Linked DNA regions of Homo sapiens: all the other regions are linked to region 2. The links come from fine-mapping of genetic effects on gene expression. A gene starts in region 2. Each other region holds a variant in brackets. All regions are shown on one strand. Distances are between the middles of the regions.

Region 1 (2,844 bases), 60 kb after region 2:
TTTTTAAAAAAACTGAACTATTATGTATTGTAATGAATGATGTGAATTCTGAACTGAGACAGATAATTGTATTGCTGTCCAACAGGGGTTGGGAGGGGCATTTTGTAGGGTTTGTATAATTTCTAGAGTTCGAAAGGGGTAATATAAAAATGTGCTCGTGTGTTTAGCCTACGTTTTTCTCATGCCTCCATTACCAGTTGCAATTGTGTATCTAAGACCTCCAAGCTTGTTTTTAAAACAAAACAAAAAACCTTTCTCTATTATCTCAGAAATATAAATACTGTTATTTTTAATATTAAGAAATTCAATATAACTTTTAACACACACTGTGGAACATTAAACCGTATAAAAATGTAGTTATAACTATTTTTAATTCCAAGGTGTTGTTTGCTTTTTTCTTTTAAATATTTTCTTAATATTTTGTCAGATTAACTAGATGAATAAATAAATCTAGTATTAACCGCATTATGAATTAAATAATTTTGATTTAATGAAAGGGATAATATGATTTCCAGTGTTTACTGTAGTGTATCTTGTACAGATAACATGTATTTTTAAAGGAAAAAAAACGGAATTGAAGCTATTTTTTCTTGCATTTCTAATTGACCTGAGGGACATTCCGTTTGAAATGTACTGAAGTTACAGTTTCTGGTTTTTTCTCCTTATTTTTCTTATAATGCTTGAAATGTCTAACTATTAAAAAAGACAATTGGAAAATGTTATGCATGGGGTTTTTAAGAAAACAAAGTGTTCTTTTTATTTGACTGACAATTCATTTTACACTCTATATAATAAAATCTCCACAAGGCATCTTGTGGGCAAAGTCTTTCTGGCCTGTTTGCTTTCCATTCGCCGGTTCATCCCTCTGCCCCTGCCCGCGGCCGCCCGAGAGGGAAAGAGGATTCCTGCGGGCCTCGCCCGTCATCTTGCACCGCGTCCACCCGCCTTCGTTGGTGCACAGTCTAGATGTCTAGCTAGTTCGTTAAGCTAATTTTATGTTAATGGCTCTGTATGATTTGACAGCTTGACTTGAGAGCCGTGGTTGGGCTCAGCTCCCCTTCCCTGTCACAGTCAGGCATCTGTAAGTGAGAAGTCAGTATGGGAGTGTCATCGGATGGAGCTGGGAGATGCATTGAAGGGCGTGCGGCGGGTCAGCAGACTTCTGCGACTGACTGGGCAGCCCCTTGCCCTCCGCCCGCTCCCCTTCCCTGCGTGCCCATGCACACACATTCGCCTGCAAATGTAGGTGGGCTGCCCTAGGCGCGGTGTGCTTCCCTGACTGTTGCTGCCTGCATCCCCCACCTCCTTGTCCCCAGCCTCACCTGTGGCTGTGGTGGTGGTGCTTTCTCGCTCTTAGCCCCGTGCCCACGGTGGGACACCAGATCGCCAGGAGGGCTGGGAAGCATCAGCACACGTGCTCGTTATGTCCTGTCCTTTCATGAAGAAACAAATGGGGCGTCCTTCCCCAGAGGTGTTAAGTTACAGTCCTGTGGTCTTAGGACTCGTGGCGACAGTGTGGGCCTCAGACTTGGAAGGGCATTAAGTAATAGCATCAGCCCTCGCCTTTTTTTTTCCTTCTGTCCCGTTGGTTGGGGTGACTGGCATTGAGCAGTGTCTGCTTTCACGTCTGAGGGGCCCTGCCTTCGCCCTCAGGCTTTCTGTGCGGGTCTCTACTTAGATATAGAGACCTGTTTCCATCCTGAA[C/T]GGGGCTTGCTGGGCTGTGCCTGGCCAATACCGGCCCCTTGTCTGTACTCCAAGCTTCTGACAGGAGGGGAAAAAAGCAGCTGTGGCTCCTTCAGGCCGAAAAGGGGTGTGGAGAGCAGCCCATCTGCGGCCATGGCAGGCCTGTTGAGAGCCGGAAGACAAAAAGGAGATGTGGCATTTTTAACTGCACCTCTAGAGAATCGAGTTTGACGTTGAGAAATTGAATAGTAAAAGGCACTTGGAAAGTGGGGGGAGGGGGCCGAGTGGGAGGAGGGCGTAAACGCTGATGACGGTAATGGGAATTCGGGAGAGGGCATTACAGAGAAGACTTCCTTCTAATTCATCTTCCAAGCTCTGTGCCAAAACAGCATTTGGCATGGTTCACAGGGAGCGATTGTGTGATAATGAACCCTAAGGTGTCCCTTAATTGAAGACTGAGCATTGTGGTTTGTGCCAAGAGTCATAAATGGCGCAGGCTTGCGGAGGATGCATTTTCTTAAATGTATCGGTAAGTACAGATTAGCGCTTGTCCCCAGTGAAATGCCCATACTATAAATTATGGAAATCTCTCTTTCTCTCTGATGCAATCTTTTATTGGGGGGAGGGGGTGTGGTACGACAGGAGGCGGGGGGGGAAAGTTTGCAAGCATATGAAATTTGGCCTCTCATTAACATGGCGCCCAAGGAAGATGATTTTCATCAGCAGTCTGGTGTACTGGAGGCTAAAGTGCTTGAAATGTACCAAGTTCAGCGGTTGTGTTCCATTAAGAAAGATGCATGGTCATCACTGTAAGGGCGGTCGGGGTCCGGGAGGCGGGGCGGGCGCTTGCCCAGTCTGTCTTCTGAATGCATGCCCCACCCCCACCCGCCACCGCCCATGCCTACTGGGTCTCTGCCAGCCTCCCAAGTTCAGGATCCATCAAGGACCCTGCTGAGCCGATCCCAGCCCCACCCAGAAGTTTGGGCTGGGGTTGAGGAGTTCTCAGCCAGCGGGCCTCAATCAGTACCCCTGGCCTCCCATCAGATAGGAGGCACCATCTTTCCAGGGTCACTCGACAGTGGTGACCACCCATGATGTCCCAGAGCCCCCAAGGTAGGGTCGGCTGGGGCACAGATGGCACAGTGCAGTGCCTGGTCCATG
Region 2 (2,778 bases):
ATCACTGATACTTGGTTCAGCTGAACGACTGTGTTCATGAAAGTTGATACCATTGCCATTCCTTGATTTTTACAAGCATAGCAAACTTAAAACGCTCAACACACCCAGAATGGGCAATAAATGGATGTGTTGGCATGGTCCTCCTCGTGCTGGCACTTCAACAACACAGCAAGCTATGTACTTTTGAACAGGGGTTGGAACATTTTTTCTGAAAGCAATCTTCAATCTTGCAATTTTGCCAAATTCTTTTATTTTGCCATAATCTATGAATTATTCTACTTGGCATTATTGAATGCAAAATAAGTTTACTAAGCACCTACTATGTGCCACACCCTAGGGATACAGGGAAAAATAAGTCTCTGCTCTAAAGTAACTCACAGTCTAGGAAAGAAGTCATTAACAAATAAATAACTATACTTTGGTTATTGGTCAAGTATTCCTCATACTTCTTTAGAATGCCCAAAGCTCTCTTGGCATAATGACACAGTGAGGGGTGAGGGTGGGGTCATCAAGGAAAGTTATATGGGACTTTTTTCCCCAAGAAAGGGTCTTGCTCTGTCACCCACGCTGTACTGCAGTGGCGTGATCATAGCTCACTGCAGCCTTGACCTCCAGGGCTCAGGTGATCCTCCCACTCCAGCCTCCCAAGTAGCTGGGACTACAGGTGTTTGCCACCACGCCCAGCTAATTATATTTTTTGTAGAGACGGGGTCTCACTATGCTGCCTAGGCTGGTCTTGAATTTCTGGGCTCAAGAGTTCTGCCTGCCTTGGCCTCCCAAACTGCTAAGATTACAGGCGTGAGCTACCGCACCCGGCCCGTATTGGATTTTATTTATTTCCTTTTCTTGGTGCTCATCCTCCTTCACAACTTCAAGATGGGCATAAGATGTTTGACAACATGGTTCTTCATTAAGTCCAACTCCTTATCATAATAGGGCTTGGGAAATATTAAACACGAGGGCAATCGTGCTAACACAAAAATGGGCGCCCCCTAAACCTTGTTACTTGTTTGCTCACTTATAAGAAGAGCCAACTCAAAGGCTCAACTGAATTCTAGCACTAAGATTCCTTCCTTGCTGTAGAAGATCTGTACCTGGTCACTTCCATTAAAGTTACATAGGCGTTCCAAGAAGCCTCCTGCAATACAGTTGTGACTCAGCCGGTATGGGAGTAATGACGGTCCTGTGGTATTTCCTGCACCCCCAGAGTCCCAGAGTTTGTTAAGGACCGTGTAAGAGGACACCACGCTGGCTTTTCAGTGGGCGCGTCTCTCCTGGGGGCATCACCAGACAACCCCAGGCGGAAGTGGCGGTGGCCCATCCTCATGCAAACTGCAGTGTAAGAACTGGGGCCCGGGACTCCTCGCAAATGTGGGACACTGACATTCTGTGATGCTGTCCCAATGCCCTTTCAAAGCGCTCAGCCCCCAAATTCCCAACCAACAGCCATTTCAGGGAGGGGCTACCCAGGACCAGGCTTTTGATGAACCACGACTGTTCGGGGTGCCGTCTTGGGAGAGCCACGTCAGTCCCTCTGAGATTCCAAACGGCCGACAGCGGACACCTCGGGACCACATCCAAGCCTCGGGGACCTGTCAAGACGCCATCGACGGTCCTGGACCAAATCCCGCCCGGGAAGGGAAGGGTCGCGACCGGACCCTGGAGACCCACGGCTGCCTGGCGATCTGAGCCCACCCCGGCGCTGCCGTCCCGCCCCCACTTCCGATCGGTCGAAGGTCACGTGCCCTGACCCCGCCCCGCAGACGCGACTCCTCCAGCTGCGAGCGTCCCGGCTTTCCCTTCCGCCGGAAGTAGGGCGACTTTCCTTTTCCGGCTACGGGTCCCCAAGCGGAGCGGGAGGCCGGACCGGGGAGCCGAGCGGCGGCGTCGGCGGCGTCGGCGGCGGCGGCGACGGCGGCGGGGGCGGTAATGGCGGAGCTGGTGCAGGGGCAGAGCGCTCCTGTGGGGATGAAGGCCGAGGGCTTCGTGGATGCCCTGCACCGGGTCCGGCAGGTACGGGCGCAGCCGGCTGGCAGGAGCACGAGATCCCGAGGCGGGGCCTGGCGGGCGGGGAAGAGGGGTTCGGGCCTGGGGGGCGGGAGGCAGCCTGAACCGACGTCTCAGCCGGGCCGGGCCGTTCCGTGGAGTTCCTACAGCCGGGAGGAGCCGGGGGGATAAGGCGCCACTGCGAGGCCCAGGCCCGGCCTGTCGGGCGGGTCTCCCAGGTGCCTGAAGTCGCTGGGAAAGGGTTTGCTTAGAGCGTCTGGCCCCATCGTGCCCCAGCGGCCAGCCTGGACCCACAGTGTAGCTAGCGCGGGGTTCTGAACCTCGCGAGGGGAGGGGTCCGGGAAGCCCACGGGGAGGATCTGGGTGTAGACATAAAGCAGCTGTCTGACGCCCAGTAGCTTGTTAAAACTTGGGGAACATCGTCTTTAGACTTTCTGTTGAGTAGAAGGAACTCGAGGGCATCTTATATGTGAGGGTGCTCTTTGGAGAGGTGAGAGAGGGAGGTGTTACATGTGTGGGGGTGGTCCCCAAGATGTAGAAATTTCTCATGGCAAGCTTGCCTCTACTGGGGAGAATGATATGGCCTCATTCCGACATTGAAACTTTACTGTCTGACAATGTCGTGCATTTAATCAAAGTTAAATTAACTGGGTTTTAGAAGGCTCCAGGCTTCCCCAGAGAGTGAATATGGGACCTGCCAAAAATACTTACTGGCTTCTGGCATGGTACTTAGAACAGAACGTGTTCTTCATTTGTATCTAAAACTTACTT
Region 3 (2,500 bases), 55 kb after region 2:
CTTCCTCTCCCCTCTCAGGCTTCCATCTCCTGAACTTTTCAGAAGCAAACAGCTAGGGAATGACTTCTTCTGCATCCCGCCTCTCCAGGGAGGCTGGTTGTGAAGGAGAAAGTCCTGGTGGGAATCAAAGCCGCCACCCTCTCTGTCCCCACAGACGCTTCAGGAACCACTGTTGGGTTTCAGAGCTGGTCTAGCCCCTCTGGCATGGCCTTCACAAAGCAAAGCAGAACCCTTACCTTAGTACGATCCACGTTCTTTTGACCCATCTGGAGTTTCTGTCCTGTGTTTAGAAAGGCTTCTTCAGTGTCTGCAGATTCCCACAGCACCCAGGCCGCAGGCCCCGCCTCACAGCCTGGCTCGGAGGGCCTGAGCCCCCTTTCTGGGGTTCTGCCACTTCAGCCTTACACAGAGTCCTGAGGCCAGTGCTGTGTGGCCTTAGGCACGCCCTGCCTTCTCTGGAGCTCCACTTTGCCACATGTAAAATCAAGGGTTTGGGTTTGAATTCTAAAGTACTTGCATGCTCTGAAATTGTATAGTTGTGTTTCTTCCCTTTTTTTCCCCAGTATCTTATTATGAAACGTTTCAAATATCTTAGAACACTCTGCAGTGAGCACCCACAAGGCACCCAGATCCCACCATCCATCCCCTTTCCCTCTGCTCGCTTGGCCATAGGGGCTAACCCTGTTTCCTTTCCTCGGCTCCTCACCTGCTGTTCTAGTCTGAGATAATCCTCCAGGCAGCAAGGTGGCCAGGATTGACTCTGGGGACACTGAGGCCTGGGAGGCCTTCAGGGGAAACGGCCCCCTGGCGGGTGGAACGGGCAGAGGCCTGTGGGCTGAGGAAGGGAGAGTGCAGGAGGCACCCGGTGGTCTTGCCGCCATTGGGCAGCCTTCATCTCATGTTGTGGAGCTTGGCTTTTTTTGTTTATTCAGGGGTTTTGCAGTGGAGAACCGGTTTGGGTTGGTGAAATACTGTTTGGC[G/A]GCGAAGTCCTGCTTGCCGGCGCCCTCCGCGTCCGAGGGAAGAGTGTTTGCTGCCTGTGTCCCTCTTTCGCCCTGCCCCTGTGGGAGGAAGCGGGGCGTCTCCTTCCCTCCTTCCTCCCGCTGCTTGCTTCTTCCCCACGCTGCTCCTCAGTATGCAGTAAAGTGAACTAGTGGAGAAAGCATTTGGCTGCATGCTCTCTGCAGTGGTTTGCCCTTCCTCCCTGCTTCAGGCTACAATCCTTACAGGAGACGAGACAGTGAGGGGGTCTTTTGTGGGCCTTGGCAGGTGGACACCTGAGCCAGCCCCGGCCTGGGCAGAAGGAGAGGTCCTGACCCGCCACTGTGGTCAAGTCTTTGAACCCCCTCTTGTGCCTGGCAGGGTGCTGAGGCTCTGTTCCCCCATGCTGGCTGTTTCTCCGCGTCCCCCAGTCTTCACTGCCCACATAGCCTAGAGGGTGAACCCAGGGTCCTGCACAGAAGAGAAGGGCTGGACCACCCAAACACATGCACCCCCTTTCCCTCTGCCCTACCCCAGCTGGCCTGAGGCTGGACAGGGTCCAGGAGCCCACTGGTGCTGCCTACCCCTGCTCCACATGGCCCCTCCACTTCCCTTGGTCCAGAGGCACAGCCCCCAGGCCTTGAACAGAGGGCCACGCGAAGAGAGTGGTCAGCAGCCTCTGGAGTCTTTGTCCTTTGGAAGGCTGATTGGGGAGCCTCAGAACAGCAGTGGCTGTGGCCGTCAAGCTTGCGTCTCCATCTGAAGAGGGTCAGGCTAGCCTTGCTAGTTGCCTCGTGTGCCCAGCCCCACCCTTACAGTGATCTTAGTTACACCCCTTCCCCCAGCCCTGCCAGCTGCCACCTCCTTCCCAGGCAGGGCTGCGGAGCCGTGTGTGGCCAGGAGCGAGGTGGAGGAGTGCAGGGCAGGGCCTGCAGCTGGCGGGCTGGGGCCGAGGCTGTGAGGAGCCCGTAAGGCCTGACTGCTTTTGTGTTCTTCGCACAGGCCAGCAGAGCCAGCCGCAGAGCAGCCAGCCCAACTACAGCAAGGCCTGGGAAGACTATTACAAAAAACAGAGTGAGTGCCCGGCCCTCCTAACCTGTGGCAGCACAGTCCCCTCCAGCCCAGAGACTTCAGAGTCCAAGGCTCACTGTCACCTCTTTTTTCCCTAATGCCTTCCCTGTGTGGCTTGATCTCATTATTTGCCTTCGTCCTCCACCCTGTACCTGCCTGCTTCTTTCTGTCAGGAGTCTGGGCATAGTCAGTCAGTGACCACAGGCTGCCCTGCGACTCGGCACATCCCCTCCTCTTTATTCTCCCCGTGCTGGGCTCCAAAGGACTTGAGGTGGGCGTGGCACCTGGAAGTGTGGGCTCAGCTGGCGTCTGGTCTCCTTAGGGACTGAAAGATTCCGGCTGGGTGCCACCTGGCCGGCAAACAGACCAACCAGACATCTTGTTCTCTGTCTTGGTGCTTCAGGGCAGATGAGGAGAGGTGGTGAGATTCAGGGAAGGAGGCCTTACCTGG

Evidence for each region. PIP is the estimated chance that this variant, and not a neighbour inherited with it, causes the effect.
Region 1: its variant is fine-mapped to the expression of FUBP3 in whole blood (TOPMed, PIP 0.95).
Region 3: its variant is fine-mapped to the expression of FUBP3 in breast (GTEx, PIP 0.98).

The regions. Positions count from the first base shown.
Region 1 is chr9:130,637,527-130,640,370 of GRCh38, forward strand. FUBP3 (far upstream element binding protein 3) reads left to right here. Exons shown (of 19, transcript NM_003934.2): 19 at 1-826. Among named protein-coding and RNA genes, the nearest start is that of MIR6856, 13 kb to the left of the region's middle. RefSeq lists an enhancer at 726-1,321. The variant C/T (reference allele first, on the strand shown) is at 1,705.
Region 2 is chr9:130,577,752-130,580,529 of GRCh38, forward strand. FUBP3 (far upstream element binding protein 3) reads left to right here and starts at 1,826. Exons shown (of 19, transcript NM_003934.2): 1 at 1,826-2,013. The coding sequence starts at 1,930. It overlaps LOC100272217 (a long non-coding RNA gene), which reads right to left and starts at 1,743. Exons shown (of 1, transcript NR_027440.1): 1 at 1-1,743. LOC124902286 (a long non-coding RNA gene) reads left to right here and starts at 2,089. Exons shown (of 2, transcript XR_007061818.1): 1 at 2,089-2,497. RefSeq lists a silencer at 1,774-2,143.
Region 3 is chr9:130,632,687-130,635,186 of GRCh38, forward strand. It overlaps FUBP3 (far upstream element binding protein 3), which reads left to right. Exons shown (of 19, transcript NM_003934.2): 17 at 1,981-2,052. Among named protein-coding and RNA genes, the nearest start is that of MIR6856, 7.6 kb to the left of the region's middle. RefSeq lists an enhancer at 1-274. The variant G/A (reference allele first, on the strand shown) is at 981.